Regions from separate parts of the Homo sapiens genome. Here all the other regions are linked to region 2. Evidence: fine-mapped expression QTL. A gene starts in region 2. Each other region holds a variant in brackets. All regions are shown on one strand. Distances are from middle to middle. Region 1 overlaps CLYBL (citramalyl-CoA lyase). Region 2 holds the start of CLYBL (citramalyl-CoA lyase). Region 3 overlaps CLYBL-AS3 (CLYBL antisense RNA 3). Region 4 overlaps CLYBL (citramalyl-CoA lyase).

Region 1 (2,687 bases), 260 kb after region 2:
TCCTTCTTGCTATTTTGGTTGAGTTATTCCTTCCCTTGAAAAGTTACTAAGGAGGTGATGATGATGCCCTTTGAAGGGGGGGCAGTGGGAGCAACTGGGAATAATTCTTCATTACTGAAAGCTGTGATTTATTTTAGCCTAATTGTAAAGTTACTGCAAATTGCTCAAAAGCTTTTTAAAGATCCCAGTGATTAGATTTTTTAGGGGGGTGGTGCACCGGCAAGGAGGGGGCAGCTAGAAGGGGAAATAACACCTCTAATCCCGCTTCTGGTAAATAGGCTGCCAGCTTTTCAAATGAGTTTCCTTTCTATTAGTCAGAATATTATGCTAAGCCTTAAGCATTAGTTTTTTTATGTTGCCATAGCAGCCTTATTCCTGCAGGGTGGTGACCTGTGATGATTACAGTACAAAGCTTATAGGGTCTTGAAACCCCCTTTGAAGATGAAAAGTCTTTGATGGTTTATATTTATGCAAATCTCTTAGATATGATTTACCCAACTGAGACTGAATGGAGAGATGATTAAAATTCCCTTTTCCTTTGATATCTATTAATGGCTGAATATTCCTTAAATTTAAAATGGATATATATGTTTTCATCTTTATTTACAAAAATACCTTTATCATACCTGTGTTTCTTCTCTATCTATCTCCCCACATCTTATTAGATCTAGATAGACATAATAGATTTACAATTTAGAGTGTGTTTTTTTCCCCCTTTTGAAGAGGGGGAGGAATCTGGGCAAGAGCTTTTGTATGTTTCCAGATGATAGATTTTGGAATTTGGGCTACCCCACTGGCAGCACAGAGCTAGCTGTGAACTGGTCTCATGGAAAAAATTGGCGAGCTTTGGTCTTCAAAGAATTAAACTTCCTTTTTAAGGTCTTCCTAGGTAAGCTAAAAAATTATGAAGAAAAACCTTCTGAACAAAGGGTAATGGTGCTATAATGAATAATATGGACTCCACGTAGAAGGCTGCTGAACAGTTGCACTGATGTCAGTGCTGGGCACGAAACAAAAACAGAATGGCAGGTAGAGGAAGAGTTCATTGTTTTAAGGGCCTACCATTTGCATTTAACGAAGCGAGGGCAAGAGGTCTTAAGTAAATGCGTTTTCAGGGAAAGCGTTTATACTCTCTCCTTCCAGTTCTAACTCCTAGGCCTCAAGTTGCTCCTTTGGGAGAAAAAAATTGTAATGCTTAGGATTTTACTATTTAGTTTGGTGGGAACTTCATTACCTTTTTCTTTGGACTTTCTTCTTATTTTTTTAAAAAAATTCTTTTGTGTGGACGAAAGAGGCTTGGATATTACTTCCTCAGGTCAA[A/AGACTT]GACTTAAATACTACTTCTGGGTCTACATTTCCGTGATTGTACATTTTTTCCCCACTAATCACCTATGACACTTCTGATTTTAGTTTGCAGACAAATTTTCATTCCACTTAAAAGGCCGAAAACTTGAACAACCAATGAATTTAATCCCTTTTGTGGAAACTGCAATGGGTTTGCTCAATTTTAAGGTAAGGAAGCCATAATACGGTTAATAAGTTAGCATTTTATTTATCACCTAAAGAGAACTTTTGCTTTCAATTTTAACATCTTCTTAAAATGTGTTTCTAGAAAGATTTATAAGCAAAGGAAATGTTGAGCACCATTTGTTATCTGTAATAGTCCAAAAACCAGGTTGCCAGCATCTTAGAAAACAATGAAATCAGTTAGGTAGAAGGAAAAGCTTCCCAGTCCAAAATATTTAAATGAAGCATTTGTATATTCCTAGTAACAATTTTAACTAATCACTGTGTAATTATATGCTTTGAATTATTGCATTTATAGACTAAATGTACATGAAAATTTGTCACCCTTATGAATTAACTTTGAAATGTTCTTTTCTATCAAATGTCTTTTCAGTGGGAAATGTTCTGCCCTCTCTGTAGCAACATTATCAGTAATGTCTAGCAGAGAAGATTATTGTTTGTAAGTTCATGCACACAAATAATTTGCAGTACAGTTTTTCAGTTTGCCACATTAGAATATCTTCTAATATACATGCGGGAATATTGGCTGAGCCAAGTGTTTTCAGCCGTTGTGTGGTTGCACTAAACTACCGGTCTTAACAAATTCAGAGCTAGCTCGTTTTTTCTCGTTTATCAGGGGGCATTTATATTATTTTCCAAAATATGCCTCTCATTCCACCTGACCTGCGAACATCAATCTAGCACCCCCTTTCAGAGTTCCTAGATTCCCTTCCCCCACCCCAGCCCCCACAGAGGGCAGGAGAAAAGAAATCACTAAAAACAACAGAAAAAACATAGTCGAACTGTACTGGAGAGAGAATGTGTGAGCGGCAACTTTGAGGCCTTGGGATGTGCAGAAGGGGTCGAGTGCAAATGTTTGGGGACCTGCTTCAAACCTTGTCCTGTGAGCAGCTTGTTTACACAACTAACCATACATTCTTCCAGCCAGCCCCAGAATCCTGAGAATATAATCAAAAGCATATCCCTAAGATGCAACCAGATTCATCCAGTGATTTAATTTTAAGCACTGCTTCGCCATTTTATTCCATAATGTACTTAGAAGCACTTACAATGTCTGAAATTAATCAACAGTGTCCCCACCGGTTCCTCGTTTCTTTCCCACCCACGTATATTATTAGCAGGTTATATCTCCACCTTTCAAGATTCACGGTTATGTCTACGACGAA
Region 2 (2,687 bases):
GTGGTGACAAGAAAGTGACCAAATTGGAGTAGACAGGCGAGGCCTGAGGTGGAGCAGGCGTGGGAGCTGGGGGAGGGCACCAAGGGGTTGAGCAGTCTCCCCTGTTGGTATCGAATATAACAATAATTCTTAGGCTCAGCAGAAGTTTAGCATCCATGTTCCCAGTCACCTGGACTTTTCCAAATCTTGGAACCCCCTCTGGCTGAAAAGGCTTTTGTTTGTTTAAACGGCCACTTTTTGCATCCAAGAGCACAAGTCAGCTTCCACTGGAAGGTTCTGAGAAACGGTTTCAGGTTTAAGTCTAGAGCATGAATGGAACGGAGTCACAGCTGAAAAAGAAACATGCCGAGTGCCAAGGAAAAGACATGGTTAAGGGGTAACATGGGCCCGGGTAGGTGAAGGTCGGCAGGTGGAGGCCGGCTGGATCAGGGAAGGTGAAAGAAGAGGCAGGGGCAGGGCCCAGCCTGTTTTAACGCCTCGGCGTTCTCACCGCTGCAGAACGGCTGCAGGGGGCAGAGTAAAGAGCTGCTGTCAGTTTCCCTGCCCAGAGAGTGCCAACAGCTGCTCTGACCTATTGCAGGCATGTGTGTTCCAGGATGCAGCCTTCCTGCACTTTGACCACTCTAGATTAATTGCTAACCAAGATATGCACATGATGGGGCTCACAAAGTATTAGGCGGTATTTTAACAACAAAAGCTGCGAAGAAATCCCTAGAAATGTTGGCTCTTCTGGCTGGGAAAACGCAGTCTGTCAACAGTTGCCTCAAAAACTCAGAAGCTCAGAGAGTTGGATTCGGTCACCAGAGAGGCCCCTCAAAGAGGCCCCAACCATTCAGATCCTCTGCTCTGTCCCCCATGACAGCGGGGACGAAGGTCCTAAGCCCTGGCCGGGAGGGCAGTTGACCTCGGGACTCGCCGCGGGGCGGAGCGGGTGCTGGGAGGAAGGAGGGCGTGGCTGGCGGGGTGTGGCTGGCGGGACGGGGCGGGGCGAAGACAGAGCGAGGCGGGGCCTGGGACGGGGGGGGGGTCGGTGTCGCCGTGGGGGCGTGGAATGTGGGGTGGGCGTGGCTAAAGGCAAAGGGCGGGGCGCGCGCGTCGGGAAGATGGCGCTACGTCTGCTGCGGAGGGCGGCGCGCGGAGCTGCGGCGGCGGCGCTGCTGAGGCTGTGAGTGCAGGTCCCCGTTCCCCGCCTTCCCGGCCCGGCTCGCCGCGGGTCGGCTCCTGTTGCAGCCCCGCGGGCCGGGCGCGGCCTCCCCAAGCCCTCACGGGAACCCAGCCGGACGGAAGCACCATGCGCCTCCCACGCGCTGGCTCGACCTCGTCCAAGGTCGCTGCCGCCCGCGCCTCCCTTTGGGAGGGCCCTCGTTGCACCCGGAAAATGGGTACACACCTTAGGTCGAATTACCTGGACTCAGCCCCAGGAAACAAAACTGCCTGCCTCCCCCAAATGGCAAACGTGAACGCGCCAGTCTTTGAGAGGCGGCTTGCCTGGTGAAGAACACCTGCGGTTCGTTTAACACAGCGGTTCCCAAACGGTTTGGTCTCAGGACCCGTTTACACGTCTAAAAATAATTTGAGGACCCCCCAAAGCTTTTGCTTATATCTATTGATTTTTGTGCATGAGGAATTAAACCAGAAATTTAAAAAATATTCACTTAATAACAAACCCATTAACTTTTAATACAAATAACACTTTAATGCATAACTTCTCAAAAAAAAAGTGAGAAGATTGGCTCATGGTTTTTATATTTTTGAAAATTTCTTTGGTTTAATAAAGGACAGCTGGAGTCTCATATCAGCTGTTTTGAAGGAAATATTTGAAAGAAATTCTGGGCTCATGCAGATGCAGATATTAGTTGGGAAAGGGAGGACCAAGCAGACCCTCTCAACGGGTCTCAGGGACCCCCTCAGGTGTCTTTGGACCACACTTTGAGAACCGCTGGTCTAGCACTTGCCCATCGCCTAGGTACGTGCACATACATGGTCTCATTTGGTTCCCTTGACCACCATGTGAAGAAGTTGGGTGTCATGTTTATAAAGATGAAAAAACAGGGTCAGAAAGGTTAAGGATTCTCAAAGCCCTATGACCAGTAATGAGAGAGTTTGGTTCAAACACTAAGTGTATGGCTCCTGGTCTGGAACTTCTTTATTTATTTATTTTTATTTTTTGAGACAGAGTCTCGGTCTGTCACCTAGGCTGTAGTACAGTGGTGTAATCTCGGCTTACTGCAACCTCCACCTCCTGGGTTCAAGCGATTCTCATGCCTCAGCCTCCTGAGTGGCTGGCATTACAGGTGTGCACCACCACCCCTGGCTAATTTTTGTATTTTTAGTAGAGACAGAGTTTCGCCATGTTGGCCAGGCTGTTCTCGAACTCCTGACCTCAAGGGGGTCCACCCGGATCAGCCTCCCAAAGTGCTGGGATTACAGGCGTGAGCCACCATGGCCGGCCTGGTGGTCTGGAACTTCTTTTTTTTTTTTTTTTTTTTTTTTTCCGAGATGGAGTTTCGCTTTTGTCGCCCAGGCTGGAGTGCAATGGCGCCATCTCAGCTGACTGCAACCTCCGCCTCCCGGATTCAAGTGATTCTCCTGCCGCAGCCTCCGGAGTAGTTGGGATTACAGGGCGTCCGCCACCATGCCCGGCTAATTTTTGTATTTTTAATAGAGACGAGGTTTCACCATGTTGG
Region 3 (2,687 bases), 300 kb after region 2:
AGCCCAAGAGTTCAAGGCTGCAGTGAGCTGTGATCGTGCCACTGCACTCCAGCCTGGATGACAGAGTGAGACCCCTCTCTTAAAAAAAAAAACAAAAACAAAAAAACCCCACACCTTTTTAATTATAAAAAGCACAGCATTTTGTTGCCAAAGAAGGACTTAGAGGTCACCTAAGCCAATGGACTGGATCTTGGCTGATATTAGAATTATTTCTTGGGCTTTTAGTAAATACTAATATCTGGGCCCCACCCCAAACTAATTCAATCAGACTCTAGTCTAACCCCTCATTTTGCAGATTAAAAAGAGAAACAGCCAGACAGAACTCCCAGACCTCGAAAGGCGAAATGTGGCCCCTTCCATTTGCAGTCAAAGGGACAACATTGTAACATGATTTGGGAATTCCTGGCTATGCTAAACTTTAAAAAGCAAAGTTCAAACCAGTTTCCATAATTATGTTTGGGTCTCATGAATTGATTTGATAAGGAAGAGTTGATTGATTCCTCACACATGACCTAATTTCTAATTTTATACACATTCACATCCCTGAATGATTGCAGAAGAGGCTGAAATAGCCATCATGTTGAAATGTCTCATGCTATAATTTTCGAAATCAGCCACACGTGTATGGATGGCTGTCCTATAAATGTCACCTAAAAGAAATGTGTGGCCTCTAAAATGGCAGCGTCGTGCTTCAAACTAATATTCCATAATTTAATTTTTCTCATATATACTTAAAGCATATAAGTAAAAAGCAGTATTTTTCCCAGTGTCAGCTCAAAACTGTACAGTTTTTATGAAAATGAAGGCAAAGACGTCAAGTAACAGCTCAGCCAAGTGAGTCCCACAGCCCCGCAAGGCAGAGGTGAGCGTAGCTGCCCTCCCTGGGGGTCTCAAGAGAGCAAAAGAGGCCCTGAAAGGGCAGCCTCCCTCTTGTAAGAAGCTCAACTGGGAGCTCAGCGGGCTTTGAGCCATCTTTGCAGAGACAGCTTTTCCCACCCTGCCTCCCCCAGAACAGTACACCTCCCCCACCTTTTCTGCTCCCCCACATCTGCCTCCTTTGCCTCTTTCCCCACAGGGCTGGCCTGCTCACAGGTCTCAGAGGGAAAGGGGGTGCTTCACACTGGAGGGTCTGGTCCTAGGCCATTCTCTCCAGCCGAGGACCTCCTGGGAGAGATCCAGAAAGCTTTGATCACAACTATCTGCCTTGGGCTAAAAGACCTCTGGTTGGTCACTCCTCTAGGATCTTAATAAGGCCAGGACCTAGGATCACAGATGCATACCTGTTTTTCTTTTTTTTTAATAAAGGGAATGCTGAGCTGCAATGACCATTACTGTAGAGTTACAACAAGAGGGTAAAGTTCATACATGGCGACCTGTGTCAAATCCGTCCATTGATCTGCCCTCCAGCACACATTTACTGAGCTTCTGTTACGTGCC[T/C]GTGGTGAGTGACATGACATCACTGTGTTAGTGACTGGCCAAAAGGGTGTCTTGAAGCCGCCCTAGGGCCCTTCTGGCCCTGTTCTAGGAAGTGAAAGCTGGGGGCAGTGGAGCCCTTTCTTATTCTGTCCACCCTCCCCCACCTCCATTCTGTTCCAATTATTCTTCATTATCCTTCAAAGCAAACTTGCAAGTCAGCCAAGAACCGAGCTCCAGGTGTGAGACCAAAAAAAGAAAGAAAAGGGGGAAGAAATCTAAAAGTACCTTAGATGGAAATTTTCATGCAGCCATAAAAAAGTGTTTTTTGGTTGTTGTTTTTGCTTTTTTTTTTTTAGATCAAACATGTTTTGTTGTTGTTGTGGTGGTGGTTGTGGTTGTTTTTGAGACAGGGTCTCTGTCTGTCGCCCAGACTGGAGTACAGCTGCACGATCTCGGCTCACTGCAGCCTCGACCTCCCCTGCTCAAGCCATCCTCCCACCTCAGCCAGGACCCCACCCAAGTAGCAGGAACTACAGGCCTGTGCCACCACTCCCAGATGATTTTTGTATTTTTTGTAGAAACGGGGTCTCACCATGTTGCCCAGTCTGTTCTTGAACTCCTGGGCTCAAGTGATCCACCTGCCTCAGCCTCCCAAAGTGCTAGGATTACAGGCATGAGCCATGACACTCTGCCAGATTCAACATGTTTAATGGCAAAAGGGAAAATGCTGAGAAGTTTGCCTCCATTTGGTTATTTCACTTTGTTCCTTTTATACTTTCCTGTACATTCCAAATGGACTACAATGAGCACCTGTCACTGTGATCATCAAGAAATAAAATAAACAATAAAATAAGTAAATGTCACTACAGGGGATTTTGGAGTTTCCCTATTTTCTAAAATGGACATTTAAAAGTTTTCAAATCAGAAAAATGTCTGTTAAGATTTCATTTTATTGTTGTTTTACATAAGAATAATCAGATATGAGGAAAATAAGTGTGAGTGAAAATCAGAATTTGAATGGGAACTGAAGGACCCCCAGAGCTTTTTTGAGTTTTCTTTTTTTTTTCTTTTTTGAGACAAAGTCTTGCTCGGTCACCCAGTGGCGCGATCTCGGCTCAATACCACCTCCGCCTCCCGGGTTCAAGCAATTCTCCTGTCTCAGCCTCCTGAGTAGCTGGGATTACAGGTGCCTGCCACCACACCCAGCTAATTTTTGTATTTTTAGTAGAAATGGGGTTTCTCCATGTTGGCCAGGCTGGTCTCGAGCTCCT
Region 4 (2,687 bases), 270 kb after region 2:
GTTTTTAATTTAGCTGACATCAGCTGTAAGGTTTCCATCCACAATATTAATCAAACTGACTTTCTTCCATCCTTCCAGAAAAATGTTTTTTGAGATACAACGTGCATACCATTAATTATTTTAGTTTCAAATTATTTGGTAAAATGCTTTAGGCAGGATAAATCATTTCCACATGATTTGTTTTAAATTTATAAAGGATTTTCTTAAAAGTTAATTCCATTTTTATGTCTTTTTTTATAATAATGGTGATTCCATTAATATTTGAAAATTCTTCATTCAGAACTGAATTTAATATGCTTATTAAAGTAATAGGATTTCAACAGTTCTTTTTTATCAATAAAGAATTTTATATACTGTAAAAATTGGATACTTGAAAACATCTCAAGCAAATAATCATCTAATATTGATATCAATAGAAATAATTTTATATAAACACATATAGCATACATGTTTATACAACATATAAACATTCAAGTATGTATGATAACGTGTATTTCCTCAAATCTATATTATGAGCTTAGTGCTAAAGTTTTTATCTTTCCATATTCATCACTCTTAGGCAAAAATGACAGCTAAAGGAAACAGTCAGTTGCTTTTTTAAAACAGTCACTAATCACAGGAAATGTTAATATAGGAATTTACTATTTCTTTCCAAATGGAGACTCTAACAGAAGAATGCGAAGGAATAGCACAATATATTACGTGTGTCAAAATTTTAAAGATACTCTGCTAGAATATTCATATTTTGCAGTATCTGGCTACAAATATGGCTTTGCTTCATTTTCAGTTTTCCAGACATTCTCTTTGATTCATATCATGGCTGTACGTGCTTTGTTTGGTTTTGGAAGGATTTTGTTTGGCTTTTTCAATATTTCTCCTTCGTTATAGCTTCACAAGTTGGCTAAAGACTGAGGAAGGGGAAGTATTCATCTTTAAATTCTAGGTTCAATTAACAATTACAAATGTCAGAAACAAGATCACTACCTGGCCTAACAACTGTAAGCATCACGCAACCAACATTCTCATTTCACTCAGGAGAGAAAAACAGTGCAAGCTGATAAGTTCACATTAGTAAGCACATCTTCTGCTGGAATATAAACTGGAAACATCTCTTAATAAAGAAAGAAAAAGGAAAGTAAGAGTTTTTTTCCTTATGTAAGTCTCTTCATCTAGAAACTTTACAAACAGTAATACATCCCTCCTCCCAAAATATTGAAAGCCCATCATTTTCATAGGTGTC[T/C]GATTGCTGCTCGCACACCTTTCATTTCTGTTTCCAAATGCAAGGCTTTACAAAAGAAATATTGCTTGGTCCAGATGGCCTTCTAGAAGCCTCCCTGAGAGAACTCAGGAGAAGTTTCTCTAGCCAAAAATATTGTTTCCGCTTATTCAAGTGCCAGAAATCCCACTGCCACTCTTTCACGCAGATCAAATAAACCATCTAAAGACGTGGTTGTTGTCTTTGTCAACTGAAAGGGTTGATTCCACTATTAGACAACAGTGTATCCTCCCACACCCATCCAGCCCACGACCCACAGCCTTCCCTCTGGATTTATGAGCAGGAACACGAAAATCAGAGCTGAGAGGTTTGTAGTGAAAATGAAAGATAAAGGGACATAACTCTGTTTTAGAGATTCTTAGTAATTGCACTTTTCTCTTTATTTCCCTGCTCATTTAACATTTTCAGAAAGATCGGCCATAATTTTGATTTTTAAAAGTCCAGTTCTTAGAAAATCTGAGTCTGCCAATGATGACTTTAAGATTGGATGGATTAACACAAAATTGCGAAATTTTAAACATTTAAAGCAAAGTAATGAATTGCTACAAAGTATTGAAATCATATCATATTCTATTTCACTTTTTTTTTTTTTTTTTTTTTTAGTGGCAAATGGCTGGTTTGGTATTAGAAGATAAGAGTGTTTTTAATAGGCCGGGTGCAGTGGTTCACACCTGTAATCCCAGCACTTTGAGAGGCCGAGGTGGGCAGATCACAAGGTCAGGAGTTTGAGACCAGCCTTGCCAACATAGTAAAACCCCGTCTCTACCAAAAATACAAAAAATCAGCTGGGTGTGGTAGCGGGTGACTGTAATCCCAGCTACTTGAGAGGCTGAGGCAGGAGAATCACTTGAACCTGGGAGGCAAAGGTTGCAGTGAGCCAAGATCACACCACTGCAATCCAGCCTGGGTGACAGAACAAGACTCCGTCTCAAAAAAAAAAAAAAAAAAAAAGAGTGTTTTTAATGTAGATTAAATCGGACAATGTTTTAAATTGTTTGCTTTGTCCTTAATTTATAACACACTCTTAAGGATATTTTAATCAAAATATTCTTTATCCAGGTTCATATTTTTCCGGGTTTTATTTGCTCAATTTTGATTTTAAATATGTCATTATTTTAGCTGGATGAAATCTCAGAAATCTTTTAGTCAGATGCCTTCAGTTTATGACTTAATGCACAGAAACCCAGCAAGGCTTCAGAAGCTGCCCAGTATCACTCACAGCCAAGGTGGAGAGAGGGCTGCGAGCAGAATTCAGGGCTTAGTTTGTAAGTAAAGATATGGAATATCATAAATGTGTCTTCAGTTGAATATTACAGTGAATACCCACACTCATGACCAAAACGAGATAGAGCCTTAAATGCACTCAGTCACAATCAAAATCTGGATTTGGGTAGTTCCAATGTATGTCTTT

What was found. PIP is the estimated chance that this variant, and not a neighbour inherited with it, causes the effect.
Region 1: its variant is fine-mapped to the expression of CLYBL in monocytes (CEDAR, PIP 0.95).
Region 3: its variant is fine-mapped to the expression of CLYBL in whole blood (TOPMed, PIP 0.95).
Region 4: its variant is fine-mapped to the expression of CLYBL in lung (TOPMed, PIP 0.91).

What each region holds. Positions count from the first base shown.
Region 1 is chr13:99,861,587-99,864,273 of GRCh38, forward strand. It overlaps CLYBL (citramalyl-CoA lyase), which reads left to right. Exons shown (of 9, transcript NM_206808.5): 4 at 1,405-1,506. The region is part of intron 1 of CLYBL-AS3 (CLYBL antisense RNA 3); the gene reads right to left. Among named protein-coding and RNA genes, the nearest start is that of CLYBL-AS3, 94 kb to the right of the region's middle. The variant A/AGACTT (reference allele first, on the strand shown) is at 1,321.
Region 2 is chr13:99,605,593-99,608,279 of GRCh38, forward strand. CLYBL (citramalyl-CoA lyase) reads left to right here and starts at 1,098. Exons shown (of 9, transcript NM_206808.5): 1 at 1,098-1,165. The coding sequence starts at 1,104. It overlaps LOC105370332 (a long non-coding RNA gene), which reads right to left and starts at 257. Exons shown (of 3, transcript XR_931674.3): 1 at 170-257. RefSeq lists enhancers at 1-940, 863-1,157 and a silencer at 879-1,438.
Region 3 is chr13:99,903,965-99,906,651 of GRCh38, forward strand. The region is part of intron 1 of CLYBL-AS3 (CLYBL antisense RNA 3); the gene reads right to left. It also overlaps a transcript of CLYBL not described here. Among named protein-coding and RNA genes, the nearest start is that of CLYBL-AS3, 52 kb to the right of the region's middle. RefSeq lists an enhancer at 484-984. The variant T/C (reference allele first, on the strand shown) is at 1,438.
Region 4 is chr13:99,874,215-99,876,901 of GRCh38, forward strand. The region is part of intron 7 of CLYBL (citramalyl-CoA lyase); the gene reads left to right. The region is part of intron 1 of CLYBL-AS3 (CLYBL antisense RNA 3); the gene reads right to left. Among named protein-coding and RNA genes, the nearest start is that of CLYBL-AS3, 82 kb to the right of the region's middle. The variant T/C (reference allele first, on the strand shown) is at 1,241.